5 separate regions of the Homo sapiens genome follow, and regions 1, 3, 4 and 5 are each linked to region 2. Evidence: fine-mapped expression QTL. A gene starts in region 2. Each other region holds a variant in brackets. All regions are shown on one strand. Distances are from middle to middle.

Evidence for each region.
Region 1: its variant is fine-mapped to the expression of NOC3L in whole blood (TOPMed, PIP 0.98).
Region 3: its variant is fine-mapped to the expression of NOC3L in uterus (GTEx, PIP 0.96).
Region 4: its variant is fine-mapped to the expression of NOC3L in whole blood (INTERVAL, PIP above 0.99).
Region 5: its variant is fine-mapped to the expression of NOC3L in spleen (GTEx, PIP 0.95).

The regions. Positions count from the first base shown.
Region 1 is chr10:94,293,682-94,300,068 of GRCh38, reverse strand. PLCE1 (phospholipase C epsilon 1) reads right to left here. Exons shown (of 33, transcript NM_016341.4): 24 at 1,400-1,690. Among named protein-coding and RNA genes, the nearest start is that of PLCE1-AS1, 9.8 kb to the right of the region's middle. The variant G/T (reference allele first, on the strand shown) is at 3,197.
Region 2 is chr10:94,359,413-94,365,799 of GRCh38, reverse strand. NOC3L (NOC3 like DNA replication regulator) reads left to right here and starts at 2,861. Exons shown (of 21, transcript NM_022451.11): 1 at 2,861-2,970; 2 at 3,928-4,135. The coding sequence starts at 2,962. RefSeq lists a silencer at 2,658-2,787 and an enhancer at 2,928-3,187.
Region 3 is chr10:94,220,254-94,226,640 of GRCh38, reverse strand. All of the region lies in intron 4 of PLCE1 (phospholipase C epsilon 1), which reads right to left. Among named protein-coding and RNA genes, the nearest start is that of PLCE1-AS1, 64 kb to the left of the region's middle. The variant G/A (reference allele first, on the strand shown) is at 3,636.
Region 4 is chr10:95,246,879-95,253,265 of GRCh38, reverse strand. PDLIM1 (PDZ and LIM domain 1) reads left to right here. Exons shown (of 7, transcript NM_020992.4): 5 at 5,900-6,051. Among named protein-coding and RNA genes, the nearest start is that of PDLIM1, 41 kb to the left of the region's middle. The variant C/T (reference allele first, on the strand shown) is at 3,793.
Region 5 is chr10:93,919,462-93,925,848 of GRCh38, reverse strand. No RefSeq gene overlaps it. Among named protein-coding and RNA genes, the nearest start is that of SLC35G1, 29 kb to the right of the region's middle. The variant C/A (reference allele first, on the strand shown) is at 4,013.

The DNA.
Region 1 (6,387 bases), 66 kb after region 2:
ACTACAGACAGGGCTGGAGATGTGAACCCACCAGCCACTCAGGAAAGAATGAACAGAAATAGAAAATAAAGTTTTTACAACTTTGAAAGTATTTCACAATTATTTCCATTTGTGAGCCCAAATCATACTGTTTTCATAACTTATCAAACACAATCAATGATAGTTAACCTTTGTAGAATGCTTTCTATGTGCCAGGCACTATGCTAAATATGGTACTTCACCGGCATCATCTTATTTAATTTTAACTGAAAGAAGCACATATAACAAGGGCAGAAATGTGACCAATATCTCTAATCATATGTCTTTGGGGCATCCACCAATGGGTGTTGTTGGCACCAGTGCCAGGTAGCTAGCTGGTCCCAGAGCTAAAGCTGTGGTTTGACCTCAGCTGGAGACAAGGCCATACTGTGGTTTGTGGTTCAGCATGGTTAGATGAGATTGGATTCAGTTCACGCGAGATGAATGATAACAGCTGCCTGCCGCTTGACTGTTCAAAGGAAAAACTGTGGTTTATGAAAGAGCTTTTAGGAAACATTTATCTACTCTTACCTTCTGTAGCTCCTCTCCTCCCCCATAACCAAGTGGAAACATAATGCTTTATCCTTTAAACTTCCAGACTCCTTGAATTTATTACTACAAGTCATCCTGCAACCTTGAACAAATTAACCAATTTGTGCCTTGATTTGCTCATCTGAGAAATGGCGATCATAAAGGTACACAACTTTAGGGCTGTTGTGAATATTAAATAAGATAATAGGGGGTCAAAAATTCAGCGTACTGCCTAATGCACAGTAAGCGTGCAATAAACGGCAGCTTCTACTCTGGAGTTTTAGGCGTCATATCAGAGTCTCATTGACATTGGAGAAACATGATCACTACTTACTCTGTTCATGTACTTCACATAGTTGTTTTCCTTTTGCTAGCTACTCTTCGGGCACTGACCATTATTCTCCATCTCAATTCCAAAAGGATAAGACGCTAACATGGTTTTAACTTGCAAAGTGGTTGGAGTGACACTACCTTTTGACTGCAAGAACAACTGCGTAGTGAGACAGGTTAACTGGGCAGTGTTAGGAAATCCCTGCTCCAAAAAGAGCTTTAAACATAAACCGGGCATGGCTTTGTCAAGAGCAGCTTGGTATTTGAAAAACTGCATTAAAAAAGGGGCAGGACCAGGAGACCTTACAGGCCCCTTCAAGATTCTTTTCTATCACCTTAATCTGAAACATCGGAGGCACAATTCAGTATCAAATTCACTTCTGTTTTCCATCATCATATTTTTACTCTCACATATGGTGTGCCCCAGTCTGGAATCTTGCCCCTTTGAAAAAATGCTGTCAAACTGCATTTACTGAAATGTAAGATGCAAAGGAGCGAGGTGAGCATGCAGGCCCCTTACCATCAGTCTGGTAGTTGAGTGCCACAAGCTGTATCCCATGGAGCCAGAACATGAGGGGGTTCGGGTTGGAAGAGTCGATGCGGGTGGCAGCAGGGTAAGTTCTCAGCAGCTGACAGGCGGTGTGCTGGGTCAGTTTCTGAGAATACCTGCGACACAGACGTTTGGCGGCATTTTCATTCAGCGACGAGATATGATAACATTTGGGAGTTCTAATGATAGCACTGAGGGACGTGGTTGGGTTGAGAGGGGAAGAAGATTCCTCCCAGGTCTGTCGAATGCCTTCACAGGAACCTAAACCCCCCAAGAAATTAGCCGCAGATTAGTGTAGAAAACTTTAAATATTTTAGAAAGATAAACCTGAACAACATCCCAGTAAACAGTCATAGCATATAAACCACATCAGAATACCTCTTGGATTTTACTTGTGAGTTAGTTCGCCACTTTAAAACAACATGGTGGCTACTTAGTTTTAAAATGAGTGTGGTGGCTGGGTGTGGTGGCTCATTCCTATAATCCCAGCACTTTGGGAGGTCAGGGTGGGAGGATTGCTTGAGCCCAGAAGTTCAAGACCAGCCTGGGCAACATGGTGAGAGCCCATCTCTACAAAAAGTAAAAAAATAAAATAAAACCAAACAAAAAACCCCACACAAGAAACAAAACAAAATGAATGTAGCAACATCAATTTAAATTAAAAGCCTAGAAGTCCTTTGCCTCAGTACTTCATTTGGGTTGTGGTATATTTGCACAAATAAACAATATATGTACAAGGATATTCACTCCAGCATTGTTTTTCATAGGAAACAACAAAATCAAACCAAACCAAGAAGCAACCCAAATGTATCAGTGAAGAAGTGATTCCATAAATGACAGTATATCCATGCAGTGGACCACCACACAAGCATTAAAGAGAATAAGGAAGCTATATGTACAGAAAATTATGTGAAAAGTTATAGCAAATATAAAGTTATACATGTATGTTTGGTTATACAGGCATACCTTGTTTTATTGTGCTTTGTTTTATTGCACTTTGCAGATACTGCACTTTTTTTTTTTTTTTTTTTTTTTTTTTTTTTTTTTTTACAAATTTAAAGTTTGGGGCAGGCCTGCCTCCAGCAAGTTTATTGGTACAATTTTTCCAACAGCATGTATTCACTTTGTGTCTCTGTGTCACATTTTAGTAATTCTTGCAACATTTCAAGCTTTTAAACATTATTATTATATCTGTTATGGTGATCTGTGACGAGTGATCTTCGATGTTTTATTGTAATTGTTTTGGGGTGCCATGGACCATACCCATAAGATGGTAAACTTAATTGACAAATGTGCGTGCTCTGACTGCTCTACCCACCAGCCCTTCACCCATCTCCCTCCCTCTCCTTGTGCCTCACGATTCCCTGAGACACAACGATACTGACATGAGGCCAATTAATAACCCTACATTGGCCTCTAAATGTTCAAGTGAAAGGGAGAGTCACACGTTTCTCACTTGAAATCAAAAGCTAGGCTGGTCACGGTGGCTCATGCCTGCAATCCCAGCACTTTGGGAGGCTGAGGCGGGTGGATCACCAGAGGTCAAGAGTTCGAGACCAGCCTGGCTAACATGGTGAAACCCTGTCTCTACTAAAAATACAAAAATTAGCCAGGCACACGCGCCTGTCATCGCAGCTACTCAGGAGGCTGAGGCAGGAGAATCGCTTGAACCCGGGAGGTGGAGGTTGCAGTGAGCTGAGATCGCGCCACTGCACTCCAGCCTGGGCAACAGGGTGAGACTCTGCCTCAAAAAAAAAAAGAAAGAAA[G/T]AAATAAAAAGCTAGAAATAATTAAGCTTAGTGAGGAAGGCATGTCAAAGGCCAAGACAGGTTGAAAGTTAGGCATTTTGCGATAAACATTTAGCTAAGTTATGAATGCAAAGGAAAAGTTCTTGAAGGAAATTAAAAGTGCTACTCCAGTGAACACACAAATGATAAGGAAGCCAAACAGCCTTATTACTGATATGGGGAAAGTGTTAGTGGTCTGGATAGAAGATTAAACCAGCCACAACATATTTTAAGCCAAAGCCTAATTGAGAGTAAGGCCCTGAACTCTCTTCTGTTTTATGAAGGTTGAGAGAAGTGAGGAAGCTGCAGAAGAAAAGTTGGAGGCTAGCAGAGGTTGGTTCATGAGGTTTAAGGAAAGAAGTCATCTCCATAACATAATATCAGCAAGTACTGATGGAGAAGCTACAGTAAGTTATTCGTAAGTTCTAGCTAAGATCATTGATGAAGGTGGCTACATTAAACAACAGAATTTTTTTTTTTTTTTTTTTTGAGATGGAGTCTTGCTCTGTCGCCCAAGTTGGAGTGCAGTGGTGCGATCTTGGCTCACTGCAAGCTCCGCCTCCCGGGTTCACGCCATTCTCCTGCCTCAGCCTCCTGAGTAGCTGGGACTACAGGCACCCGCCACCATGCCCAACTAATTTTTTTTTTGTATTTTTAGTAGAGATGGGGTTTCACCGTGTTAGCCAGGATGGTCTCGATCTCCTGACCTTGTGATCCACCTGCCTCAGCCTCCCAAAGTGCTGGGATTACAGGCATGAGCCACCACACCCGGCCAAACAACAACTTTTTATTGTAAATGAAACAGCCTTCTATTGGAAGAAGATGCCACCTAGGACTTTCATAGCTAGAGAAGATAAGTCAATGCCTGGCTTCAAAGAAAAGGCTGTCTCTCTTGTTAGGGGCTAATGCAGCTGGCGACTTGAAGTTGAAGCCAATGCTCATGGACCATTCTGAAAATCCTTAGGGCCCTTAAGAATCATGCTAAATCTACTCTGCCTGTATTCTATAGATGGAACAACAAAACCTAGATGACAGCACATCTGTTTACAGCATGATTTTTCATGTCTGCTAACACAGTATCCAGTCTGCAGCCCATGAACAAGGAGTAATTTGAACTTTTAAGTCTTATTTAAGAAATAAATTTCATAAGGCTAAAGCTTCCATAGGTTGTGATTCCTCTGATGGATCTGGTGAAAATAAAATGAAAACCTCCTAGAAAGAATTCACCATTCTAGACGCCCTTAAGAGCATTCATGATTCATGGGAGGAGGTCAAAAGAGCAACATTAACAGAAGTTTGGGAGAAGTTAATTCCAAACTTCATGGATGACTTGGAGGGGTTTAAAACCTCAGTGGAGGGAGTAACTGCAGATATGGTGGAAACAGCAAGAGAACTAGAAGTATAGCCTGCAGATGTGACTGAATTCCTGCAATTTCGTGATAAAACTTGAATGGATGAGGAGTTGCTTCTTAATGGATGAGCAAAGAAAGTGGTTTCTTGAGATGGAATCTACTCTTGGCGAAGATCCTGTGAACATTGTTGAAATGACAACAAAGGATTTAGAATATTTCATACATTTAGTTGATAAAGCAGCAGTGGGGTTTGAGAGGTCTGACCCCAATTTTGAAAGTTCTACCATGGCCGGGCGCGGTGGCTCACACCTGTAATCCCAGCACTTTGGAAGGCTGAGGTAGGCAGATCATGAGGTGAGGAGATCGAGACCACCCTGGCTAACATGGTAAAACCCCATCTCTACTAAAAATACAAAAAAAGTAGCCGGGCGTGGTGGTGGGCTCCTGTAGTCCCAGCTACTCAGGAGGCTGAGGCAGGAGAATGGCGTGAACCCGGGAGGTGGAGCTTGCAGTGAGACAAGATCTTGCCACCGCACTCCAGCCTGGGTGACAGAGCAAGACTCCGTCTCAAAAAAAAAAAAAAAAAAAAAAAAGTTCTATCATGAGTAAAATGCTATCAAACAGCATTGCATGATACAGAGAAATCTTTTGTACAAGGAAGAGTTGGTTGATGTGGCAGACTTCACTGTTGCCTTCTTGTAAGAAACTGCCAGACACCCTAGCCTTCAGCAACCACCCCCCTGATGAATCAGCAGCCATCAACGTTGAGGCAACACCCTCCACCAGCAAAAATATTACAACTTGCTACAGGCTCAGATGATTGTTAGCATTTTGTATCAATAAAGTATTTTCTATTGAAGGTATGTACATTTTTTTGACATAATGCTATTGCACACTTAATAGACTATGGTATAGTGTAGACATAACTTTTATATGTACTGGGAAACGAAAAAATTAATGTGACTCATTTTATCGTGATATTCACTTTATTGTAGTGGTCTGGAACCGAACCTGCAATATCTCCGAAGTATGCCTGTATCCCATTTGGATTATCTTAAAAAGGATCTTATTTTTCTTGAACAAAACACAATAAATTTAATAGTGGTTACTTCTGGAGAATAGCACCAGGACATTGAGTGGAAAGGAATTTTAATAATACTCTGTATTGTTTGAGTTTTTAACTACAAGAATTTATTACTTTCATAATAAAAAGTAACTAGAAATAAAATAGCCATATCTTCTGGAGTTATAATGGTGAAGAGAACAGCTCCAAGAAACCACTAGAATGTTCCAAGAATGTTCCAAGGTGCCTCTAATTTTTACTCGTGAGGCAAACACTGTTCAAACATCTTCAGTGAAATGTTATTTTTATTTTTTAATTTTTTAATATTTTTTTGAGACAGAATCTTGCTCTGTCACCCAGGCTGGGGTACAGTGGTGCGATCTCAGCTCACCACAACCTCTGCCTTCCGGGCTTAAGCGATTCTCTTGCCTCAGCCTCCCTAGTAGCTGGGATTACAGGTGTGCACTACCACACCCGGCTACTTTTTGTATTTTTAATAGAGATGGCGTTTCATCATGTTAGCCAGACTGGTCTCGAACTCCTGACCTCAAGTGATCCACCTGCCTTGGCCTCCAAAAGTGCTGGGATTACAGGCATGAGCCACTGTGCCCAGCCTGAAATGCTGTTTTTAGTACGTTAAAAGTGTAAGTTAGCAATTACAAAAATTTATACTATACTCAGACAATATTAATGTTCAGGAAAAAGAATTAAAAAATTCAAGGGAAGTGCTTAGACAGTAAAATATCTAAATCATCCAG
Region 2 (6,387 bases):
TAGATCAGTTTCAGCGGAATGTTATGGGCAAAGCCACGTAAGTTCTTAACAGACTTCCTGAAAGTGCTAACAGGAATCTCCAGGTACAATCCCTGTGATACTAGTTTGGGAAAGCCCAGTGACCCTTATCAGCTCAAGTGTCCAGGAAAGCTCTAAGGGATCTAAGAGGATCTGGAGTCCAAATGGGGCTTGGCAGTGGATTGAGTGAAGAAGAGATGACACAAAGGTGGACACACAGAATTAAGAAACCAGCAAGATTAAATGGAATTAAAAGGAATCATATAAACTTCCATTTTTGAGTATTTTCGAACAACAGGCTGCTCGAATTCAAGATGGGAGAGATTTAGCTTGGCAACAATTGCTTTAAAATGATCCAGAGATTTTAGTTGATTGTAAACTTAAAATGGGCCAAGAGTATGACACAGTTCTTAAAAAAGCTAGCACATGCTGGGCATGGTGGCTCATGCCTGTAATCCCAGCACTTTGGGAGGTTGAGGTGGGAGGACTGCTTGAGCCCAGGAGTTTGAGACCAGCCTAGGCAGTATAGCAAGACCAAATCTCTGCAAATAATATAAATTAGCCGGGCATGGTGGTGCGTGCCTGTAGTTTCAGCTACCCAGGAAGCTGAGGTGGAGGATCCCTTGAGCCTGGGAGGTTGAGGCTGCAGTGAGCTGAGAGCTGCCACTGCACTCCAGCCTGGGCAACAGAGAAAAAAAATAAAAAAAGGCAATCTTTATATTAAAAAAGAAAATACTAGCACAGGATTGGGCTATGACAATAGAGAAGAGAAAGTGGAGACGCTAAAAGAATACTTTTTTCTGGAAGTAGGGACAAGTAGGAAAAGAGGCACATAAAAGAGCAATTAAAGGGAGATAAGTTTATTAGAACAAATCTTAAAAATGGAAGAGATTTGAATATGTTTATAAGCTGAGGGGAAGGATCTATTAGAGAGGGAAAGAACACAGGAAAGAAGGGATAATTAATGATACAAGAATCTGATGAAGCTGGGAGGAGTTGGTTTTGAACTGGAATGGGGATGCCTCATCCTTGGAGAGACTGGAAGGAAGGCTAAAAGGATGGGAGTGACTGTAGATATGTTGATATGCTTGGGAGGGAATTCAGGCACTTGGGAAGAGCACAGGCTGATGTTTTCCACTTGTTTGATGAAGTAATACTCCAGCGGGACAGGCTCTGCTGTTTCTGACACTGTGTGGAAGGAGACAGAGCAAGGAAGAAGTTGGAAGGGAGGTTGAAAGAAGAGTGCCAGATGGACCTCTTGGTCTTTGTGGTGGGATCAGGAAATTGGTACTTTTTTCCCTCAGTCTCTCTAAGAGCAACACTATTCAAGGGGCTCAGAACCCTTTGAGCCGCACTACTGGGTTTTCCCACCTGCTCAGGACTGCGAGGCCAGACTCTGTGTCAGGGCCATGCTCAAAAATCATAGACTCAAAAAAACCCACAAAAAACTTGAAGTGGAATGCTTAAATTTATTGAGAAAAAAAAGTCTTTGAGAGACAAGCACTTTGATACTCTTATTCTTGCAATCCATAAAACTTCCTGTAAAAATGAACGACTTTAGGCGGGGCGCGGTGGCTCATGCCTGTTATCCCAGCACTTTGGGAGGCCAAGGTGGGCGAATCACGAGGTCAGGAGATCGAGACCATCCTGGCTAACACGGTGAAACCCCGTCTCTACTAAAAATACAAAAAAAATTAGCTGGGCGTGGTGGCGGGCGCCTGTAGTTCCAGTTACTCGGGAGGCTGAGGCAGGAGAATGGCGTGAACCCAGAAGGCAGAGCTTGCAATGAGCCCAGATTGCGCCACTGCACTCCAGCCTGGGCGCCAGAGCAAGACTCCGTCTCAAAAAACAAAAACAAAAAACGACTTTGGTGAAATTACTAAGCAGACAGAATTTACCCAAAGTTGTAAGATACTGAAATGCAGATACAGTTTTTTATTTTTATTTTTATTTTTTAGACAGTCTTGCTCTGTCACCCAGGCTGGAGTGCAGTGGTGTGATCTCGACTCACTGCAACCTCTGCCTCCTGGGTTCAAGCGATTCTCCTGCCTCAGCCTCCCGAGTAGCTAGGATTACAGGCGCACGCCACCATGTCTGGCTGATTTTTGTATTTTTAGTAGAGACAGGGTTTCACCATGTTGGCCAGGCTGGTCTCGAACTCCTGGAACTCAGGTGATCCACCCGCCTCTGCCTCCCTAAGTGCTGGGATTACAAGCGTGAACCACCGCACCCAGCCATGGATACAGTTCTTTATCAGCTAATGGTTAAAAATTAAAGCAAAAAAAAAATGCAAAATAAAACACTAAGAATCACAGACTTTTAAGTGACCAAGGCTGATGAGAAATCATTCGCCATGCTACAAACACGGCCAGAATGTCCGTCGAGGGGCAGGCATTACACACAAAAAATAAGCTTCTTTCTGCCCTCAGGACTGTATGGAGGAAAAAGACTACGAAAATCAGTATCTATAACAGCATGAGATAAGCAACGTGAGGAGAGGCACAAAATGCAATGAGGTGACCGAAAAAACCAAGTCCTCTCATTCTGAGAGGAGGAGCCCGATTTCCCCAAGGTTTTAAAAGAAATAAATAGGGCGAGAGTCAAAGAATCATACTCAGATAACCTTGCAAAATGCGCCCCTCCCGCCCGGCTTCCCGCCTTTGGCACCGACGCCCTCGGGGCTTCCCTCGTGCCAGTCCGCGCGCGCACGCCGGGGGGCAACCGGTCCAGGGCCGCGAGACAGTCACCGCGAGAGGGCGCGAGCCCGAACCTGTCTACGGAAGTCCCGCCCTCACTTCCGGCGGCGGAGGATTGGGAGGGACTGAAGGCCGTTTCCGGCTCTGGTAGTGTAGGGACTTCGGCACGTGTGTCATTCCCCGGGATTTCTGTAGTAACCCTGCTTCTGGTGAACTTGTCTGGCCGGCATTCATTTAAGGCCTAAGGATGAAGGCGGTAAGTGTCCTCAAAAGCCCGGTCGCCGCGGCCTAGGGCCCCTTCGGGTGATAGAGTCACTGCCTGAGTTAGCTTTTAGGCAGGTTTTCACCCGTGTCTAGGGGGCGGTGGTTTAGACTGGGGGCTTTCCATTCCTTACACCGAGCTCATCCTTGGTTACCCACTGTGTGCGCGCACCACTTCAGAGTATCACGAAGAGACAGGCACGGAGTTTTGCATGCGTGGGATTTCATACTTTGAAGGAATTTTTCAAGACCGTCTTTCGAACTCGTTTTTCACAAATGAGAAGCAGGGTCCTACCCTCAGCGAGTTTATAATGTGAGTCACGGTACCCATGAAGGGTAAAGAGATAGAAAAGCAAGTGATTTGTCCTGGTTCTCCCAGAAAATAAGAGGTAGTCCTGGGGTTCAGGACTAACTTTGGGATTTCTGAATGAGTCACCAGCAAGAGAAGTGGAATCCAAAGATCCGAATTCAGTTTTGCCCTCCTTAGTTTATGGGTCTTTTGGCAGCTTCATCAGTAATGTGAGGATAACAGCAGTCAGTACTCAACTAGGCTGTTAGAGGTGATTTGTTGGAGCACTTTGTAAGTAATAAAATCGTAGATAAATGTAAGTTTTATTAAAGACAGCCAGCATTTTGCTTTGAATGTGTTAAACTACAGGTGTGTTAAACTAGCCTTGAATAGCCACTTACCACTACTAGATCAGTGGTTCTTAACCTGTTTGGGGATCGTAGAACCCTTTGAATTGCTGTGAATTGGGATTGAATAACTGATGCTGTAGCGCTCTTCTGTAGGATTAAAGCCATCGTTTGGTTTTAGCTTTTATATGCAAGTCTGTGGCTGTGGGACATTGAAATTGTGGAATTGGTCTAATGAAATTTGTAATCAGTTCTCTTTAACCTGATTTAAAAAATAAGTTTCTGGGTATGCAGTATTCTTTCTGTTATTTTCTAGAGAAGAAATAAAAAACAGATCCCAAGCTTTCGCAAGTTAATAAAAACTAGTAAAGTCAAACTTGAAAACAAGCTAAAAAATAAGCAGTTTAAACAACAAAGCACTCTCAAGAAGTACCGAAAAGAACAGAGGAAACTAAGGCAAGCTGTGAAAGATGCTGTGTCTAAGAAACCCATTCCATTGGAGAACCCAAAGGAAAAGCGACCAGGTAATTGTGAAAACATCATGTGCTCTGGTTTCCATTGATTTATTCTGAAGTGTTCTTCATGGAAATAACTTTGCTTTCTAGTAATCGCTTTTCTTGTTCTCAGATCTTCCTAGAGTGGGTAAGGATAGTAGTCCTATAGGACTGCTATAAAGCATATATGCTTTATCACAGTCAGTATGAGAAAACATTTCAATACAGTATTCATTCAAGCTTCTGCTTTTAGTTTGTCTGGAAGGCAGATCTGAAGATGCACTACTTGGGAAAACAAACTGAAAGTACTCCGTTACATAAATATTGGGCAGTGTGCCAGTGCTGCCACTTTGCCATTCACCAGCAGTTAGGTAAGGTAAGAACATTGCTTGTCTCTGGTTCATTCTTCACAGTATTGCCAAGGTACACTTCTAAACTTCTGACTTTCTTTTCATGTGGAAACTTGGGGTGAAATTGAGTTGTAATTGTCATGGTTATTTTGTAAAACTATCTAAAAATTATTAAGTACTCAAAACTTGTAAGGAATATGACTATTTTGAGTCAGGCTAGTTCTACAACTTTGCTGGTACTTTTAGGGTATTCTTATTTGACTATATCAGATTATTAGACAACTATTCAGTCTTCTCAGGTCCATTTTTTAAAAATTATTATTATTATTTTAAATAGACAGGGTCTTGTTCTGTCACCCAGGCTGGAGTGCAGTGTGCAAAAATAGCCCACTACAGCCTTGACCTCCTGGGCTCAGGCAGTCCTCCTGCTTCAGCCTCCAAAAGTGCTGGAATTGCAAGGGTGAGCCACAGCACCCAGCTAAAGTTTTTTTTTTTTCTAATTTTGTGGGTACATAGTAGGTGTATATATTTATGGGATACATGAGGTACTTTGATACAGGCATACAATGCATAATAATCACATCAGAGTAAATGTGGTATCCATCACCTCAAGCATTTATCTTTGTGTTACGAACAATCCAGTTATACTTTTTTAGTTATTTTAAAACATAAAATAAATTATTGTTGACTATAGTCATCCTATCTATCAAATACTAGATCTTTTTCTAAGTGTATTTTTGTACCCATTAACCATCCCTACTCCTATCTCCTCCAACTGCCTTTCCCAGCCAGTGGTAACCATCATTCTACTCTCTTCATGAGTTCAGTTGTTTTAATTTTTAGCTACCACAAATAAGTGAGAACATGTGAAATTTGTCTTTCTGTGCCTAGCTTGTTTAACTTAGCATAATGGCCTTTAGTTTCATCCATGTTGTTGCACACAGGATCTCATTCTTTTTTGTGGCTGAATAATACTACATTGTGTACATGTACCATATTTTCTTTTATTATTATTATTATTATTTTTTTTGAGATGGAGTCTCTCTCTGTTGCCAGGCTGGAGTGCAGTGGCACGATCCCGGCTCACTGCAACCCCCGACTCCCCAGTTCAAGTGATTCTCCTGCCTTAGCCTCCCGAGTAGCTAGGATTACAGGCGCACACCACCACATCTGGCTGATTTTTGTGTTTTTAGTAGAGCCGGGGTTTCACCATGTTGGCTGGGATGGTCTTGATCTCCTGATCTCGTGATCTGCCCGCCTTGGCCTCCCAAAGTGCTGGGATTACAGGCGTGAGCCACCGCGCCTGGCCCCGTATTTTCTTTATCCATTCATCTGTTTATGAACACTTAGGTTGTTTCCAAATCTTGGCTCTTGTGGATAGTGCTGAATGAACATGGGAGTGCAGATATCTGTTCGGTATACTGATTTCTTTTTTTTGGATTCATGCCTGGCAGTGGGTGGGATTGATGGATTATATAGTAGTTCCATTTTTAGTTTTAGTTTTTTGAGGAACTTCCAAACTTTTCTCCATAGTGGTTGTGCTAATTTACATTCCCACCAAGAGTGTATGAGAGTTCCCTTTTCTCTACATCCTTGCCAGCATTGTTACTGCCTGTCTTTTGGATAAAAGCCTTTTTAACTAGGATGAGATGATATCTCATTGTAATTTTGATTTACATTTCCCTGATGATCAATGATGTTGAGCACCTTTTCATATACCTGTTTGCCATTTGTATGTCTTCTTTTGAGAAATGTCTATTCATATCTTTTGCCCATTTTTTAATGGGATTATTAAATTTAGAAGGCTCATTTAAAGTAGATAGGAGTGCCATTCTGTGCAGTGTGTACATTTATATAGCAAGATTTACTAGGGTCTTTTTTTGTTTTTTTTTTTGAGACGGAGTTTCACACTTGTTGCCCAGGCTGGAGTTC
Region 3 (6,387 bases), 140 kb after region 2:
AGTTAAAGACATTTACTAAGTATTAAAATACATAATATCAAAGGAAAAATAAAAACATTTTTAAACAATCTTTTACAAATGCTTTATCTATTATGCCCCTCAAATGACAAAATATTATGAACAAATATTTATAGAGCACTTATTATGTGCCAGGAGCCATTCTAAGCACTTTACCTATATTACCTCATTTATCTCTCACAACAATTCTAAGAGTCAGGGACTGTTACTGTCCTCAGGGATGTGTGTAAGGTCTTCAACCACGTTGAAGGTAGCAAAGCCTAGGTTTGAACTTAGGGTGTCTTCTCCAGAGGTTGCATTATCAACCACTCACAAAATGCCTGATGTGTTTACACAAACTCTAATGTTCTTCAGTTCTGGGCTTAAAGTTATTCTAATGTGATTCGTTTTTCCTGCTACACAGACTGGAGGACAATATTTAAAAATAATCCATGTCTACACCCTCCCCTTATGATATGCAGCCTCTAAATCATCTGCTTCTGCTCTATGATTATTTTGCTGCCACCTTTACTTTGGTGCTTAGATGCTGGTGTCCACCTAAGTTACCTTCTCTATCCTGACTAGCATCTGGGTTGATAAGCTTGGTTGTCAACAGACCAAAGTCTTGGTCTTGACCTCACATGGCCCTACAAGCTCCGCTTGGTTCAGCATCAGTGCTGAAGCCTGGACAGCAACACTTTTCTCTGGACTAAGTTAGAGAGGCCGGAACACAGAGTTTATGGTGACCCATGACAACTGCAGGAAATAAGAGCTCAAGGTCAATGGCATACTGCCTGTAAGTGGATAAAATGATAAGAATTAATGGCATTGAGTGCTGGCAGCAACCACAGAGGGCAGTGCAACCCCATTTTTCCAGATCGAGAATCTATGGCTCATGGGAGAAGTGACTTTTCAAGGTCACAATTCTTGTTGATGTCAAAAGTAGGACTCCCAGCCCAGTGCTCTTTCATCTGGTGAAAGTTGACAGTTTCTTTCTTTCTTTCTTCCTTTTTTAGACAGAATCTTGCTTCGTTGCCCAGGCTGGAGTGCAATGGTATGATCTTGGCTCACTGCAACCTCGAGTAACTGGGATTACAAGGCCTGCCACCTCGCCCGGCTAATTTTTGTATTTTTAGTAGAGATGGGTTTCACCATGTTGGCCAGGCTGGTCTTGAACTCCTGACCTCAAGTGATCCACCCACCTCGGCCTCCCAAAGTGCTGGGATTACGGGCGTGAGCCACCGCACCCAGCCGAAAGGTGAGTTTTTTCAGACTTGGCTCTGGGTAGGTCCTCCTAAGCACTCAGTTTTGAGCTGCATATGTGAAGGCAGAGCAGGAATAAAAGGAGAAAATACTGAGAAGAGTCCAAAATATGACTAAAGAGATGAAAAAAACAAAATGAATGGTTGCTCACACCTCTTTCCTATCCCTACATAGAAACAAACAGGAAAATCAGAGCAACAGGGAGTTTTAGTGATAAAACAGGTCTATTCTCTGGTATGAGCCAGAGGCACTGGAGTAATTAATAATCTTCCTCTTCCCTTCTGAAACAGACTGAAGCAAAACGTGCTGGGCTACCTGCCACCCTCAAGCTCAGTCCTGAGCCTAGTGGGCTCCCAGCATGTGCCTCTGCCCTCCATCTGTACTGGACTTCACTGGGCCCTCAGGTGGCATCAGGAGAACAGGTCTGGAATCAGACCCTTGGGACAAACCCTGGTCCACATCATCCCAGGAACTGTCTGGGATTCCTAGTGCTGACCCGTCTCCTGCAGCTATGAGTAACCCCTTGCTCACAGTCTCCATGCCTGTCCTCTCACTTGATTCCTTGGTTAAAAGTCACCTTTGTGAAACCCTGGCTCACTAGAGCAAGAAATTATTTTGCTAACAGAGACTGAGTCATTGGTGCATCCATCTAATTCTTCCTTTAGTCTGACTGGCTTTTGATGAGCCCTATCCTAAAATGGGAAACCATCAGCAAACACTTAGCATCATAACCCTACTGACTCTTTGAGTTGGAAATTCAAACACTTCTCACAAATAAAAATGAGATCCTGAAAAGTAAAAAAACAGTTTCTCAAAGCCACCCAACTCATTAGTTGTTGAGGCCTCTGGCTATATTGTCTCTATGGCTTTAGCTCCTTTCTAGTTGAAATTGATGGCAAATCAGGGTCTCTGGAAAGTTGTCATTCTTTCAGGCTGTTCTGATACCATGCATTGACTTACTAGTCCAGTGGCTGGAAAGGGTTAACTCACCTCCCCCTGGAGAGGTCTGCTTCACAGGGCAGGTGGAGACCACCACTTGGTTTGTGTCACAATCCTGATCACTCATCCAGATTTATTTCCTATCAGTCAAATCATTTTCCATATACTTTCCCACAATGCTAGGAAAAAAACAGCGATACCATATTTCACATGGAAACCTAATTTAAACCAACTGTTCCATTGCCGAGTGTGAGTCCCCAGGGCCCTGGTTGTTGAGATTATGTAAGCACTGTTATCATAAACACACACACAGACACACCACACACACACACACACACGCACACACACCCCAACATCTGTTTACAAGCCTCACGGACAATTCTTATTATGGTCTGATGTATTCATAATTTTATAAGCATTAAATGGTGAGAGGGCCACCGCTAGTTATAAAATAATAAATGACACAAAAAGGAAATGAAGATTCAGTGACAAATGTCAAAATGTTGACCAAAGCATAAAAGGTGGTCACATTTACTAAGTGGAAAATGGGATGTGTTGCCAATCCAGAAAGAATTTCTGTGCAATCACACAGAAAAACAAAAAAATCATATAAATATAAAGTACTATGGTTTAGGCATAGGGAGTGCTACTAGAGCAGAAAGGTGTTAATGGTAGCAGATTATTTTGCTTATTTCAATAGTAAGCACAGAATGAGGAGAGAATCTGGCCCCCAGCCCAATTCTTTAAGCACCTCTCCCAGAAGGTTCTGGGCTTACCCTGACATCATAACCCCCTGGACCATGCCCACAACTCCTCCACAACTGCCCCTCCCAAAATATCTTTTTTTCCTTCCTTTTGCTTTTCTCAGTACTCTTGGGCTTAGCCAAATAGAACAGTTTACTCCCTCTCCTCACATCAAATACCTTATTGGTGTCACACATGCTCATTTTGGAAGGAATTTTCTTGCATCATTCAAAATGACCTTTCCCTGGTCCACCATGTCTTGCTTGTGTCCTCTGCAAAGCCAAATCTTTACTTTGGCCCACCAGGCCCCTGTCCATTCTCCAATCACCTCACCTCTCCCCTATATCCCTCCTTTTAGGGAGGTAAAGTAGGCTTTTTAACATCTCAGGAATCTTGAACTGGTTGTTCCTTCTGCAGGAAGGCTTCCCCATCACCCCAGATTCAATTTTTTTTTTTTTTTTTTTGTAGAGATGGAGTATCACTATGTTGCCCAGGCTGATCTTGAACTTCTGGCCTCAAGTGATCCTCCCGCTTCCGCTTCCATAGCATTGGCATTACAGTTGATCCACCACACACGGCCTGGCATTTTATTCATTGAACCCTACTCATCCTTTAGGCAGCACTGCCCTGAGACCATGCCATCAGGATCCTGCCCTGGACCCCAGGTTTCAGAAGGCTCCACACTGGCTGTC[G/A]TCCAGCTGTGCCCTCTCCATAGAGTAAGAAGTCTATGGGGTGGAGGGGACGTGCCTGTCCATAGGCTGCACACTCACTTCTAGATAATTTATCCCTTGTAAACCCACGCTTCCCAAATTCCCTGTCCAAACAGCACCAAGCCCACTGCTGGTCTGCAAGGGCTGTTTATCTGGATCAGTCCTTCAGAGGGTAGATTGTAACCCCTAGGCCTAAAGCCAGGCCAGAGGGCAGTGGGGGTGGGGGTGATGTGTGGACAGGGTTTGAACTTGAGGCCTGAGGTATACATACTCTGGCACACAAGCCAGGATGGGAAGAGAAGGTGGGAAGGCCAACATGCTGGGGCCTCCCTTGTACTCACGCCCTGGCCCCCTAAAGGAAAGGGTGAGGCTGCCTTCAGGAGTCTGATAAAAACATCATTTTCTTGAGCAGAACTTCCTTGACTTCCCACCTGGAGTGTGTCCACACACTGCATGCTCTGTGGTGCCCCCACATCACCCTGACCCTAGCGCACATTTAGTGCTGTGATCCTCATTAAGGCAGATGCTGGATCTGCTATGCTCACGGGTAAGCAGCAGTGTCGGTGACCTGTCAGGATCTGCCCTCGGTAAGTTTAAACAAGAGTCAGCGAAGGAGTGAACATATGAATGAATGAATGAATGAATGAATGAATGAAGCTTACCTCCTCTAGGGAGGCTTTTCTCATGGTTCACCTAGCACCTTTCATTCCATTTCTTCCTACTTCTCTTTGACTTAATGTAGGACCTTGAGTTCAAAGTTTCACTTGTATTCTCACCACTGCATGGATCTGCCTCTGGTTTATTTTTGTTATATTTGTGTGCCTGACTCTTTCACATGGGCCTGTTCTGTCTCCCCCAGCAGACCCTTAGACCTCCAGGACAGAGACCATCTTTCCCACATTTCCAGCATGGAGTTGCTCAGTGTCTCTGGCAGACAGGCAGGCCATCCAGAGTCCCAGGAGGCCGTGGGCAGGGAGGATTCTCAGCTTCCAAACGCTCAGGGATTATATTTGGGAAAAGGCCTGAACACTTCCCAGTGCTGTTCCCAGGTCCAGAAAAAGGAGACAAATGACTTTCTGCCGAAAAGTTTCTTGAAAATGCCAAGCAGAAGTTTTCAAAGAGATGATCATTTGTAATGGGTATCTGGTCATTCTAACTGCAAAGGTTGAATTCAAATGGTAAAGTCTACAAAATATAATGAAAGTCTAGACAGAGCTACTTTCCTTCTTCTTCTTCTTCTTCTTCTTTTTTTTTAGACAGAACTTCCCTCTTGTTGCCCAGCTGGAGTGCAATGGCACGATTTTGGCTCACTGCAATCTCCGCCTCCTGGGTTCAAGTGATTCTCCTGCCTCAGCCTCCCAAGTAGCTGGAATTACAGGCATGCGCCACCACACCTGGCTAATTTTGTATTTTTAGAAAGATGGGGTTTCTCCATGTTGGTCAGGCTGGTCTCAAACTCCTGACCTCAGGTGATCCACCCACCTCGGCCTCCCAAAGTGCTGGGATTCCAGGCGTGAGCCACTGAACCCGGCTATGACAAAGCTACTTTCAAGTAGTTTATGTGTAGTGCACATCCATACCTATCCTCCATGGAGCTTTACTGAAACATCTTGACTAGCACATGTGGGCATGTACACACACACAACATGCACATGTGTGCATGCACAGGCACATACACACACACACACCCTTGCAGAGGCAGTGCTTCTCAAATGTGGAGCACTGACATCAGAAGCACTGGGGGTGGTGTTTAGGTGTTTGTTCAAATGTAGATTCCAAGGCCTCAGACTGAGAAATCAGGCTCTCTTAAGGCCAGAGATCAATAATTTGCATTTTCAGATAAACTCCCTGGTGATTCTTATATGCGCTGGAGTTTGAGAACTCACCCAGGGGCTTAGTGACCTTTTTCTGCACCCCAGGGCCTTGAGTCAGATCAGGCGTCATTTCTGTAGTACCAGCGCAAAATTGTAAATCACCTCTCTGGCCTCACCAGTTAACTGTACCTGAGATTGAGACTGTAACCCATTTGGAACAAGGGGAAGCTGGAGGGAGGCAGCACGGTGTAGTGGCGGAGCCCGGCGCTGGAGGTAGGTAGACCTGTGTGCACTCCCAGCCCCACCGTTTCCTGTGCGTGCCCCTGAGGCAAGCCATCTAACTGCTCTGAGCCCTAATTCCCTTTTCAGTAAAATGGGCATACTGTTTACCTCCTAAAATTGTTGTGAGGGTGAAGTTGGAGAGTGTATCTAAAGATCTCAGCATGATGCTTAGTGTGCAGTTAAGGGATAGATGTTCACTACTGTGACTGCTCTGCTGCTGCAAGTACTGTTGTAGAGATGCTGAATTTCAGGTGACAGAACACAGAAATCCTGAAGACTGGAATCTCTAAATCCCACTTCCTAACTAACAGGCTGGACCAAGAAGAATCTGTGACTGCCCTGAGAAGGGTTTGTGCCCCGAGTACAGTCTTCTCTTAAGAGAAGGATAACTCAAATGTTACCTCTTCTCTCAAGGCTTCCCTGGCTCATTGCTAGGAATAAAAGAGCATGTTTCTATTACAATAGCCCAATCATATATATATATATATATATATATATATATATATATATATATAAAATGTTTAGTTTTTAAGCTTTTATTTCTTTTTAGAAATGGAGTCTCTCTATGTTGCCCAGGATGGCCACAAACTCCTGCCTCAGCCTCCCAAGTAGCTGGTACTACAGGTGCATGCCACTGT
Region 4 (6,387 bases), 890 kb before region 2:
AGAATGCTAGGCTGGCAGTTTTTTTTCTTTCAGCAGCTGAAAGCATTGTGCTACTTCCTTCTTTTCTTTATGGATTCTGATAAGAAATCTGCTGTCTTTTGAATTGGTTTTCCCCTCTAGATAAGGCGTCATTTTTCTCCTACTGCTTTGGAAATTCTTTCTTTGTTGTAGTTTTCAGAAATTTACTATGATATGTTTTGGTGTGGATTTTTTTAGGTTTATCCTGTTTCCTGTTCACTTCACTTCTTTATGTCTTTTGCCAAATTTAGGACACCTTCAGACATGATTTCTTCTAGTACTTTTCTAGTTCCACCTTTTTTCTCTTCTTCCAAGACTCCATTGACATGAATTTTTGATCTTTTATATATTCCCATAGGTTTGTGAGGCTCTTCATTTCTTTTTTTTCTCCCCATTCTATTTTTCTATGATCTTGAAATTGTATAATTTCTAATATTCACCTTCCAGTTCACTGATTCTTTCCTTTGTCTCCTTCATGCTGCTGCTGAGTGTATCCACTGTGGTTTTATTTCAGTTATTTTGTCAGTTCTAGAATTTCCATTTCATTCTTTATATCTTCTGTTTGTTGAGACTTTATTTGTTTTAAATGTGCTCATAATTGTTCATTGAAACATTTTTATGATGACTGTGTTACCATCTTTGTTAGATAATCCCAACATCTCTGTCATCTTGGTGTTGGCATCTCTTTATTGTCTTATTTACAGTTTGAGATCTTCCTGGTTCTTCTGAGAGATGTGATTTTTCAACTGAATCTTGAACATTCTTGTTACTATGTTATTAGATTCTGGATCGCATTAAAACCTTCTGTATTCACTGGCTTCCTCTCAGATATGGGATTGGGGATGCTGCCTCATTACTGACAGGTGGGGGTAGAAAGTCCACTTTCCCCACTCTGCCTATGTCACACCTGAGGTCATTGGGGCCACTCATTACTGCTGGATGGGGTGGGAGTTCTGGCTCCCCATATGGCTTCCACTGACACCTTATGGGTGAGTGGTGGCCTAGACACTGCTGAGCAGTGGTGAGAGTCCTGATTCTCTCCTAGGTTTTCTTCATTACAGCTGGGTAAGGATGAAATATGGACTCTCTATTGGGCTTTCTCTGAATCTACCCCAGTGAGATAGTTGGGGAACCACATCATAGCCTGGTGAGACTAGAAGTCTGGACCCCCCACTTGGCCTTTTCTGGCATTTGGCTGGAGAATAGTGTTGTTTCAATGTGTTGTGTTTTGCTGGGCTGCCCCTTTCTGGTTATTTGGTCAGATACAGCAGGCTCCTCTTGAGACTTCTTCTGTCTGTGCCCATTGCCCTTTCCAGGTTGCTGCCCTCCGCTCCATGTCTGGGATGTCCAAGGAAACAAGAACACCCTGGGAGCTCACCATCGTGGTCCTCAGGACGTGGGGTCCCTAGCCAGTGTGGCTTCCGTTGCCCTGTCAGAGTCTTCTCATGTTGTTTTATATGTAATGTCCAGGGTTTTTGGTTTTACTGGGTGAAACAGGGAAAAATATGTCTACCTCATCTTCTCAGACAGGAAAAATATTTTTATGAGGAGACCATCTTCTCCTGTCTGGATGCTTTCAATAATTCACGTAATCCCCGTTTCTATTCCAATTTTTATCTCACATACAGGTAGTTTTATTAAAGTATCAAAATGTTCTTACTGTGTGAGAAAATGACCCTACTAAGGTTGTATCAGCAATGAGGATTTTTTTCTTATGGCTGTCTTGTTTTAGCAACTTCTGCCTCCTAGGTTCAAGCGATTCTACTGCCTCAGCCTTCCAAGTAGCTGGGATTACAGGCACACGCTGCAGCACCTGGCTAATTTTTTTTGGATTTTAGTAGAGATAGGAGTTTCACCGTGTTGCCTAGGCTGGTCTCGAACTCCTGAGCTCAGGCAATTCACCTGCTTCGGCCTCCTAAAGGTGTGAGCCACCGCACCTGGCCTAGCTGAGATTTATATACAGATAATTAAGTTGCTGCCACAGATGATGGCCCAAGTTAAAAAAAAAAAAAAGCCCCTTATATCCTCACTCTGGGCACTTCATGGTTCTGATGGAGTAGACTTTCATCCCAGGGTTGCTGTGCTGACCCATGCTCCAGAGCCATGGGCGTACTGCTTTCCATCCTCCTCGTCCTTCTGACCCTCACCCCAGCTGCCCTTTTGGCTGGAGCAGGTGTGAGAAACACATAAGGTCTGCAGGCTCAGCCTCCAAAATCCTCCTCTGGGAGGTGGGCTCAAGGGGAGTTTCTGCTTATGTTCTAAAGACCACTAGGATCCTCCTACGCCTGGCTGTGTCAGCCATCTTATTTGGCAGGGATGGGAGTGGCTTGGCTAGAATAACCCTGGGGCCCTCAGGTCACGTCCTAAAATAGTGGGAGAAAATATTAAACATTTAGGAAACAGATACACATCAGCTCCCAGGGAGAAACAAGAACTAGGAAACTTTGTGTAACGTATTGTTACTCCAAAGTAGTTGAATTTGCTTAAACTCGTTATTAAAACTGTATAGAGTGGGTTCAGAAGAAAGTGTTCATTTTCACTGTTACGCCGTCAAAACTTTTTCTCCTGGAGACTGAGTGGTGTGTATTATATTTTCTGAAGCCATATCACTGTAATATTCTTTCATTGCTGTTTTTAATATAAAAACGAGAAATTTTTTGCTCCATTTCTCCTTCATATTTTTGTCATCATTTTTTAAGATATTGTGGTATCATGTCAATACCTTGTAATCTAGTGTCTAAGACTTAGACGTTGGATCTTAGGATGTTATTTTTGAGTCAGGTGTATCAATACCTTAAGTAAGGTAATAGATATTGAGAGTCCTTTATAAATTGTCCAGTGGTTTAAAGATACTATCATTATTTGAGAAAAATGGTAAGTTTTTTTTTTTTTTTAAATTATAGAAATCCCTCACAAGGTGATTTGCTGGAAGAATATGTGATGGCCTTGTGGTCTGGGTTCTGTCATTTTTTTGGTGTGTTCCATTGGTGGCTTCCAGACATAACATACACCAAAGAAGAAGAAAAATCTTTCCCAAGAACATTCCATAGTCTGATCTCAATTTTAAAATAGTCCTAAGTGTAATAGAAAAAAGATTTATCCAAAAATAATGTAATATGCTTATTATGGGGCAAGTTCCAAACTCAGGACTCAAAGAGTCAGGCATATAACTCAAAGAAAGGGCTGGAAAGTGAGACAAAGAAAGACCCTTGGTTAAAACAACTCCCCCAGGTGGCCCCATTGCCTGCCCTGAGAGGCACCCACAGTTCCCTGCAGGTGGGGGAAGAGGCCAAGCAGGAGTGGGCAGGACAGGCAGGGATAGCTGCTTTCCCTTCCCCAAATGCAGCCGGCCGGAGTGACCAACCCATGAATCTTGCTACTTAAACTCTGACCTTCTTTGGTAGCCATGAAGCATATGCCACTCTTTGGGTGCCTTTTCCTTTATTGTGAGAACATGGTTGGAGTGGAAGGGAAACACCTGGACCTTGATTGCTATGATTGACTCTGCCTTTAGCTGGGGACCTGAGTACTGAACGTGCCCCAGAGGTTGTCTCAGAAAAGAGAAAGGAAGAAAGGAGAGGAAGAGAGGGAGAGGAAAAGGGAACTTGCGGAGAATTACCCAGGGAAAACATATACCCTGGAAATGAGTAAGCGTAACTGATATAATTCATTTGCACCTGTGAAAGTGGCTCCAGCCCTAAAGAGAGTCTGTTTAGAGTTGCTGAATAAAACCACTCCTGGCCACTGCCTGCATCTGTAAAGCTGGGAGGCAGC[C/T]TGGTGGGCTGGAGACTTTATAGCTTTATTACTCAGGAAGCACAACTTGTTTATATACAAATCTATCCATCTGCATCAATAAATTGCCCCACCATCTGATATTTGCTCTTTGGTTCCACTGGGCACACTGGCCTTTCTCCTTAGCAGCTCAGCTGAGAGGAAGGTGGTGATCTGGGGCCAGGAGGTGGGGCTGCCCATGTCCCTGGCACAACCCTCAGAGGCTGGCTGCCCTGGAGGACCTCGTGAGCCTGCAGGAACAGGGGGAGCACAGCAAGGAGGAAGGAGGCCCTGGACCCATTCTGCAGTGTTCGTTCACTTGCCTGATGCCTGCTGCCTGCTGAACTGTGACCTGTGCCAGGCACTGAGCCGGGCCTGGGAATGTGATGGGGAGCAAGACAGGCCATGCTCCTGCCCTCCTGGGGCTTACTTTCCAGGGGGAGATAGACAACAAAGAAATAAGGGAATACACTGGAATCCATGGTGAGAGAGCAGGTAGGGAGTTAAGAGTGATAGTGGGGATGTGGCGGACTGTTTGGAGTCGGGGTCAGGAAGGCCTCTCTGAGGAGTGCACTTGAGCAGAGACCTGGATGAAGCATGGGAGCCATGACAACACCTGGGAAGGGCATTGCAGGCTGAGGGTGCAGTAAGTGCATAGGCTGTGAAGCTAGTGTTTCCCAGGCACAGCGGGAAGCCTGGTCTCAGTAGAGCAGAGTGGGCCAGGGCTGGCAGGGGATGTGTGTGGAGGGAGAAGTTTGGGTCACATATGTGAGGGACTTTCTCCTCTGTGATAACATTTACTCCAAAAAAGTTGAATTTGATTAAACATATATTTTAGTATTAAAACTAAATATTTTGTGCTAAGTCAAATGAGAATACATTGAGCCACAGCATGACACAGTCTGATTCATGTTTAAAATATCATTCTAGGCCAGGCACTCTGGCCCATGCCTATAATCCTAGCGCTTTGGGAGTCCGAGGCTGGAGGATCACTTGAGGCTGGGACTTTGAGACCAGCCTGGGCAACACAGCAAGACTCTGTCTCTACAAAATAATGACAAAATCAGCGGGGGATGGTGGCACACCTGTAGTCCTAGCCACTCAGGAGGCCGAGGCAGGAGGATTTATCTATTGAGGCCAGTAGTTCGAGGTTACAGTTACCTGTGATTGCACCACTGTACTCCAGCCTGGGTGACAGAGTGAGTCCCTGTCTCTAAAAAACAAAAAATATCACTCTGATATTTTGAATAGAGGCCATCACTTTGGCCTAAGCATGGCATGGCTTGGACCTGGGGGAGGTGGGGAGGTGAGAAGGGGTCAGATGGAGGATAGATTTACAGGTATAGCTGATGAGAGACTACCTCCCTGTCACCGTCCACTGCTTAGAAAGTGGAGCCCTCAGGGAAAGAGGCAGGCTCTGCCTGTCTTATCTTGTTCTGGGTCACCCAGCATGACAGGAGGAAGGTGGGGAAGACAAGGCCTGGCTTGCCCAGTCCCTGGGCCTGAACATCAACAGTTCACAAAGCACTTGCGTGTCCCATCCTTACCACCAAACTGTGAACCAGGCAAGGAAAGTACTGTTACCTCTGTGTTATAGGTGAGGAGACCCAAGTGCCTGGCCTTGAGAATCAGGAAGTATTTATAGACAGGGAAAGCACTGTGAGATCGTCGGGAATGAATAACACTATGATTCCTGCTTGTGCAAGCAATGTTTGTGGCCCATACAAGGGGGACCCGGCTGAGTTCTTCATGGTTGGCTTGTGGTTGACATTTTTTTTTCTCTAAATTTTCTCTGGACATAATGCTGCTGATGGAATTTATAAAGAGATAGAGCATTCTCATTCCACTGGATTAGGCCAAAAAGTAATTGAGCTACTGAAGCTATTTAGAAGAAGAGCCTCTGATTGCATTGAAGCAGCAGCCAGCTCTGACTACAAAGACATCTCAGTTTCACTGTGCTGGCAGCAGGTCTGTGGCTGATTTAGGAGAGGGCTTTGAGATCATTTCTATCCATCCTTCAAATCAGCAGTGTCTGCCTGGAGGAGGTTCCTGGTGAAGTTATTTTTAACTTCTGTCATGTCCTAATCAATTTTTCAAACATTCTTTACAGCTTAGACCATGCTCAGCCTCCAAGCAGCCTTGTCATCGACAAAGAATCTGAAGTTTACAAGATGCTTCAGGAGAAACAGGAGTTGAATGAGCCCCCGAAACAGTCCACGTCTTTCTTGGTTTTGCAGGAAATCCTGGAGTCTGAAGAAAAAGGTAATCAGCTCCATCTGCAGTCAGAGGCTCTTGTTCAAGGTCAGATGTGAGAGTCAGTCATTGTGGAAGCACAGGTGAACACACTCTGGAGCCTGCTTTGGAGGGCATGGGCTTTTAAAATGCTGAAATTCTTTAAAAAGAGATAGAGGGAGAGAGAGAGAGAGAGAGGAAGAGAGTGCTGACCACATTTTCCCATCTGGGTCTGTATTTAAGAAACTCCAGGCCTGGCCAACTGTGTCCTGTCACATGTGCAAGAGGATGCTAAGGTTGGGGTGAGCCTGACTGCTGTGGGAGCCTGTTGGTCTGTCCCTTGGCCATTTATTTGCTTTGAGCCCA
Region 5 (6,387 bases), 440 kb after region 2:
CAGATGTCAGAAAGGAAAAAAAAATGTATAACAGAGGGCATCTCCCTACTGGAGGTGAGTACTCACTGGGAGTGAGATCATGCAGTGAAGTGGCTGAGAACACAGGACATAGGGGTTAGGCTGATGTGACAAAGAGGTCCTGACAAGCTACTTGTGGCTCAGCAAGACCTCAGAGAAGAGCATCCTTCACCTTGGCCCTGAGTGGCCTTTGCTTTTCCTTTCTTTAAAACAATAATAATCTCTAACACTTATTAGGGATCCGCCATTGTGCTAAGCTCTTTAACTCCATGATCTCATTTAATTCTTGCAATGTTCCTGTAAAATGGAGACTAGTAAAGCCATTTCACAGATGAGGAGACTGAAGCTCAGAAAGGTGATATTATCTGCCCAAGAGTCACCTAGCTAGTTAGAGATAGATAGAGCTAGAATTCAAACCCAGCATGGTCTGACTCCAGAACTGAAACTGTTAACCACCATGCCAGACTGTTTTTTCCAGTATAATGCACTTTTTACATGTGTACTGAAACATTATGAGGTGTTCAATAAATCCAATTTGAAAATATTCATTGGCCTGGCGTGGTGGCTCACGCCTGTAATCCCAATATTTTGGGAGGCCAAGGAAGGTGGATCATTTAAGGTCAGAAGTTCAAGACCAGCCTGGCCAACATGATGAAACCCTATATCTACTAAAAATACAAAAAGTAGCTGGGCGTGGTGGCACATGCCTGTAATCCCAGCTACCTGGGAGGCTGAGGCAGGAGAATTGCTTGAACCTGGGAGGCAGAGTTTGCAGTGAGCCGAGATCACACCACTGCACTCCAGCCTGGGCGACAGAAGAAGAGCCTGGGTGATGCAGGGGGACTCCGTCTCAAAAAAAAGAAAAAGAAAATATTCATTAGCTGGGGGGCATGGTGGTGTATGCACCTATAGTCCCAACTACTCAGGAGGCTGAGGCAGGAGGATCACTTGACCCAGAGTTTGAGGCTGTGGTGCTAGCTGTGACTTCGCCATTGCACTCCAGTCTGCAAAACAGAGTGAGACTCTGTCTCAAAAGAAAAAAAATAAAAATAAATCAGATACTTGGTGCTATCACAGTCAAGCATTTACTTAAAGTTTCAAAACCATCACTTTTCATTTGTTTTACAGGTTAAGTAAAATAATGTTATATTTAAAATTTCACCCCTGGAATTTTATCTGCATTGTAAGGTTGGTACAATTATGTTTCTGCATTGCCATATTAAGCTCAGTTAACTCAATTTGAAGCTATTTAGATTTTCTGATTTTAGTAGGATTTGTTAGGTAATTATACATCTATATCTATGCCTGTCTAGCTGTCTATCAATACACCATTTGGCTTCTAGTTCTTAGCTTACTTATTTTACTTCTACTGAAATACAGTAACATTTATAAAATTAAAAGCTAGGCCAGGCATGGTTACTCATAGCTGTAATCCCAACACTTTGGGAGGTCGAGATGGGAGAATCATTTGAGGTCAGGAGTTCAAGACCAGATTAAGCAAAATAGACCTGTCTCTGCAAAAAAATTAAAAATTAGACAGGTGTGGTGATGTGTGTCTTGGTCCTAGCTACTCTGGAGCCTGAGGCAGGAGGATCACATGAGCCCAGAAGTTTGAGGTTAAAGTGAGCTCTGATTGTACCACTGCACTCTAGCCTGAAAGACAGAGAGAGACCCTATCTGTAAAAAAAAGGCTGGGCATGGTGGCTCACGCCTGTAATCCCAGCACTTTGGGAGGCTGAGGTGGGCGGATCACAAGGTCAGGAGATCAAGACCATCCTGGCTAACACCGTGAAACCCCATCTCTACTAAAAATACAAAAAATTAGCCGGGCGTGGTGGCGGGCGCCTCTAGTTCCAGCTACTCGGGAGGCTGAGGCAGGAGAATGGCATCAACCCGGGAGGCGGAGCTTGCAGTGAGCTGAGATTGTGCTACCGCACTCCAGCCTGGGCGACAGAGCAAGACTCTGTCTCAAAAAAAAAAAAAAAAAAAAAAAGTAAAAATAAAAGGTAAACCATAAGCACTCAAACTTTATAAAAACTCTCTTATAAGTATAAGGGGTCAGACAGGCAGGACACCAAAATTATAAGAGCTAAAATTATATATAATATAATATAATCATGGCAAAGCAGCTTGTATGTTCTCTTGCTATTGTACAGTTTGTCATTACGATGTCATGAGCACCTGCACAAAGCAGATGGACCTGAACATTATCCAACATTTCCTGCAGGGCAGCCCCCGGGGCTGTGAGAGCATGCTTATTTTAACAATTTGTTGTGAGTGGTCCTGAAAAGTTCCTGAATTTTTTGAATAGTTTAGAACTACAACCTTCATAATCAGTTTACAGGAAGTTCGAATAATTGCTCTAAGATGGCAGAAGTTTCACTCCACATTGTTTACCAATATGATTTAATCTGGCCGTTTAAATTAACATATTGATGGTCTGAAATATATATACATGTTGTTTTTACTATTGTTTTCAAATGAATGAGGTATGTCTTTATCTTCTGACATGAAAAATTTTCGTGATATACTGTCTAGTGGGACAGAAGTTTCGGGACAGAATGTACCATATGATTCCATTTTGTAAAAATTAATCAATCAATTAAACAAACAAATCTATATGTATCTATCGAAAAGAGAATCCAGCTAGGCATGGTGGTGTACATGTGTAGTCCCAGGTACTTAGGATGCTGAGGCAGGAGGATAGCTTGAGCCCAGGAGTTCAACGCTGCAGTAAGTTCATACTACTGCAGTCCACTCTGGACTACAGAAGGAGAGCTCGTCTCTAAAAAAATGGGAAAAAAAAGAGGAGAAAAATAAAAGAAGAATCCACTCTACTACTTAAAGGTCAGGGGAATTGAGCCTTCCATTTATATTTTACATTTCTGTGTTGCTAATTTTTTAACTATATGGAAGTTTATTAATGATGCAATCCCTGATTTAAGATACAAGAAATGCATCAGAAATCCAGATGTCAATGTCCTATACAGATTCTTGCTTTGAAAATATGTTCTGAGAGCAATGTGATTGCAGTCCTTGGAAAATCTTCTCTGACTGTTGCTGCAACTTTACTTATTTATTTTAAATCTGTACATATTTAATGCATACAGCTTGATGAGTTTGGAGATAAGTATACATCCATGAAACCATTTCCACAATCTATGCCATAAACATATCAATTACCTCCAAAAGTTTCCTCCCACCCTCATTATAATTTGTGTTAAGAACACTTGACATTGATCTACCATCTTAGCAAATTTTTAAGTATAAAATGCAATATTATTAACTCTAGGCACTATGTTGTACAGATGTCTAGGACCTATTCATGTTGCATAACTGAAATTTTTTGTGCCCTTTGACCAATAGTTCCCCATCTTCCTTTGCCATATGGCCCTGGCAACCACCATTCTACTTTCTGATTCTACGAGTTTGACTATACCTGATACCTCATATAATTGGTATCATGTAGTATTTGTCCTTCTGTGTTAGGCTTATTTCACTTAGCATAATGTGCTCCAGGTTCATTCATGTTGTCGCAAATGGCAAGATTCTTTCTCTTTTAAGTCTAAATAATATTCCACTGTATGTATATATACACCACATTTTCTTTATCCATTTGTCCTTTGGAAATTTAGGTTGCTTGCACGTCTTGGCTATTGTGAATAATGCCGCAGTGAACACAGGAGTGAAGATATCTCTTCAGTATACTGATTTTGATTCCTTTGGATATATGCCCAGAAGTGGGATTTTTTAATCATATTATATTTTTAATTTTTCAAGAAACTTCCAAACTGTTTTCCACTGTGGCTACACCAATTTACGTTTCCACCAACAGTGTAGAAGGATTCCCTTTTCTTTACTTTCTCGCTTGTTGAATTTTTAAAGTATCACCTTTGAAAGATAAATACAGTATTTTTTAAAACAAAAATATTTCTCCAGGCATGGTGGCTCACGCCTGTAATTCCAGCATTTTGGGAAGATGAGGCAGATGGAT[C/A]GCTTGAGCCCAGGAGTTCGAGACCAACCTGGCCAACATGGTGAGACCCTATCTCTACAAAAAATACAAAAATTAGCTGGGCTGGTGTCATGCTCCTGTGGTCCTAACTACTCGGGAAGCCGAGATGGGAGGATCACCTGAGCTTGGGAAGTTGACACTGCAGTGAGCTGAGATCAAGCCCCTCCACTCCAGCCTGGGTGACAGAGTGAGAACCTGTCTCAAAAAAAGAAAAAAAAATCAAGAAACGCAAGCCACTGGTTTCCACAGCAAGTCTTGACCATAGCTCCACACCACAAGGGGGTGCTGTGGGATTCTGAATGAGTCACATCACTGGCACCTCAGTTTCCCCTCTGTAAAACGAGGATAACACCCCCCTCACCGGGAGGTGGCGGAGCTGAAAAGATGTGGCTGTGAAAGCGAGTGGGTCTGAGTGGGTTCTGGGAGACTGCCTTTAATTTTCCTAAATTTGAATGGGGGTTGGGATAAGGTGAGACCAAAGAATCCCTGTTCTGGTCGATTATGTTTCTAAAACTAGAACTAAGAATTCAGTGCTTAGCTTCCTCCTCTGACCTAAGTCTCTTCTCACACTCCTATTCAAAGTGCTGGGGTGGAAGGAAGCTTGAAGTCACCCTGTCCTCAAAGAATCTGACAAAAGTTATGCACCTGAATCCCAGAAAACTGCATGGAAAGCTGAATTTTAAATATAATTCCTGGAGATTCCCAGGCCCACGTGAAGGATCCTTCATTGATTTAATTCAGGCACCTTATTTTACCCAGGAGAACAAAATTTAGAAATTAAGGCCACTGAACCTGGCTGTTAATGGCTCACAGATTCCCCATCCCCAAGAATTGCTCTGGGTATAAGACCCACCTACAATGCAGTGGTGTGATTTATGCTCCTGAAAGCACATCCTCTGCCAGGTGCAGTGGCTCAAGCCTGTAATCCCAGCACTTTGGGAGGCCCATGAGGGTGGATCACCTGAGCTCAGGAATTCGAGACTGACCTGGGCAACATGGCAAAACCCCATCTCTACAAAAAATTTAAAAAGTAGCCTGGTGTGGTGGCAGCTACTTAGGAGGCTGAGGTGGGAGGATTGCTTGAGCCCTGAAGGCAGAGGTTGCAGTGAGCTGAGATTGTGCTACTGCACTCCAGCCTGGGTGACAAAGTGAGACCCCGTCTCAATACATACATAAATTTAAAAAAGTGCATCCTTGCTTGCCTCTTTCCCCCTCCCTGGTCTGTTTTCCTCATGAGCTTTTCCTGAAGAGCATATGCCCAGTAAATCACACACACCTCAACCTCTGTCTGGGGCTCTCCTAGGGAATCTGACCTCATACTAGTACCAAGTGTCACTGGCATCATTTTATAGATTCCAGACATTGATAACATGTGATGACAATACACTGATAAGATATCTAACTGCTCTCTTCACTTTATAAAATCATGCTTGGGACCTCAGAGATCATTTAGTCATCTTAGAGGTGAGGACATGTATTATATATATGTAGATATATACTTTATATTATTTATATATTTATTCTCCTGCTTTTTCCACTTAATATCATAACATGACGATTTCTCTTTACTTCTTTTTTTGTGGCTCCATTTGGTAAGCTTTGTAAAAAGAACTTGTATTTGGGGCCGGGTGTGGTGGCTCACACCTGTAATCCCAGCCCTTTGGGAGGCTGAGGTGGGCAGATCACCTGAGGTCATGAGTTCAAGACCAGCTTGGCCAACATGGTGAAACCCCGTCTCTACCAAAAATACAAAAAAATTAGCCGGACATCATGGTGGGCACTTGTAATCCCAGCTACTCGGGAGAATGAGGCAGGAGAATCGCTTGAACCCGGGGGGCAGAGGTTGCAGTGAGCTGAGATGGTGCCACTGCACTCCAGCCTGGGTGACAGAGCGAGACTCCATCACAAAACAAAACAAAACAAAACAAAAACAAAAACAAAAAACTTTTAAGTTCAGGGGTACATGTGCAGATTTGTTATATAGGTAAACCTGTGTCTTGGGAGTTTGTTGTACAGATTATTTCATCACACAGGTGTTAAGCCTAGTACCCATTAGTTATTTTTCCTGATCCTTTCCCTTCTCCTACCCTCTACCCTCTGGAAGGCTCCAGTGTCCACTGTTCCTCCTCTATGTGTCCATGTGTTCTCAACATTTAGCTCCCACTTATAAGTGAGAACGTGTGGTATTTGGTTTTCTCTTCCTGTGTTAGTTTGCTAAGGATAACGAGCTCAAGCTCCATTCATGTTCCTGCAAAGGACATGATCTTGTTTTTTTATAGCTGTATAGTATTCCATGGTGTATATGTAGCACATTTTCCTGACACAGTCCACTATTGATGGGCATTTAGGCTGATTCC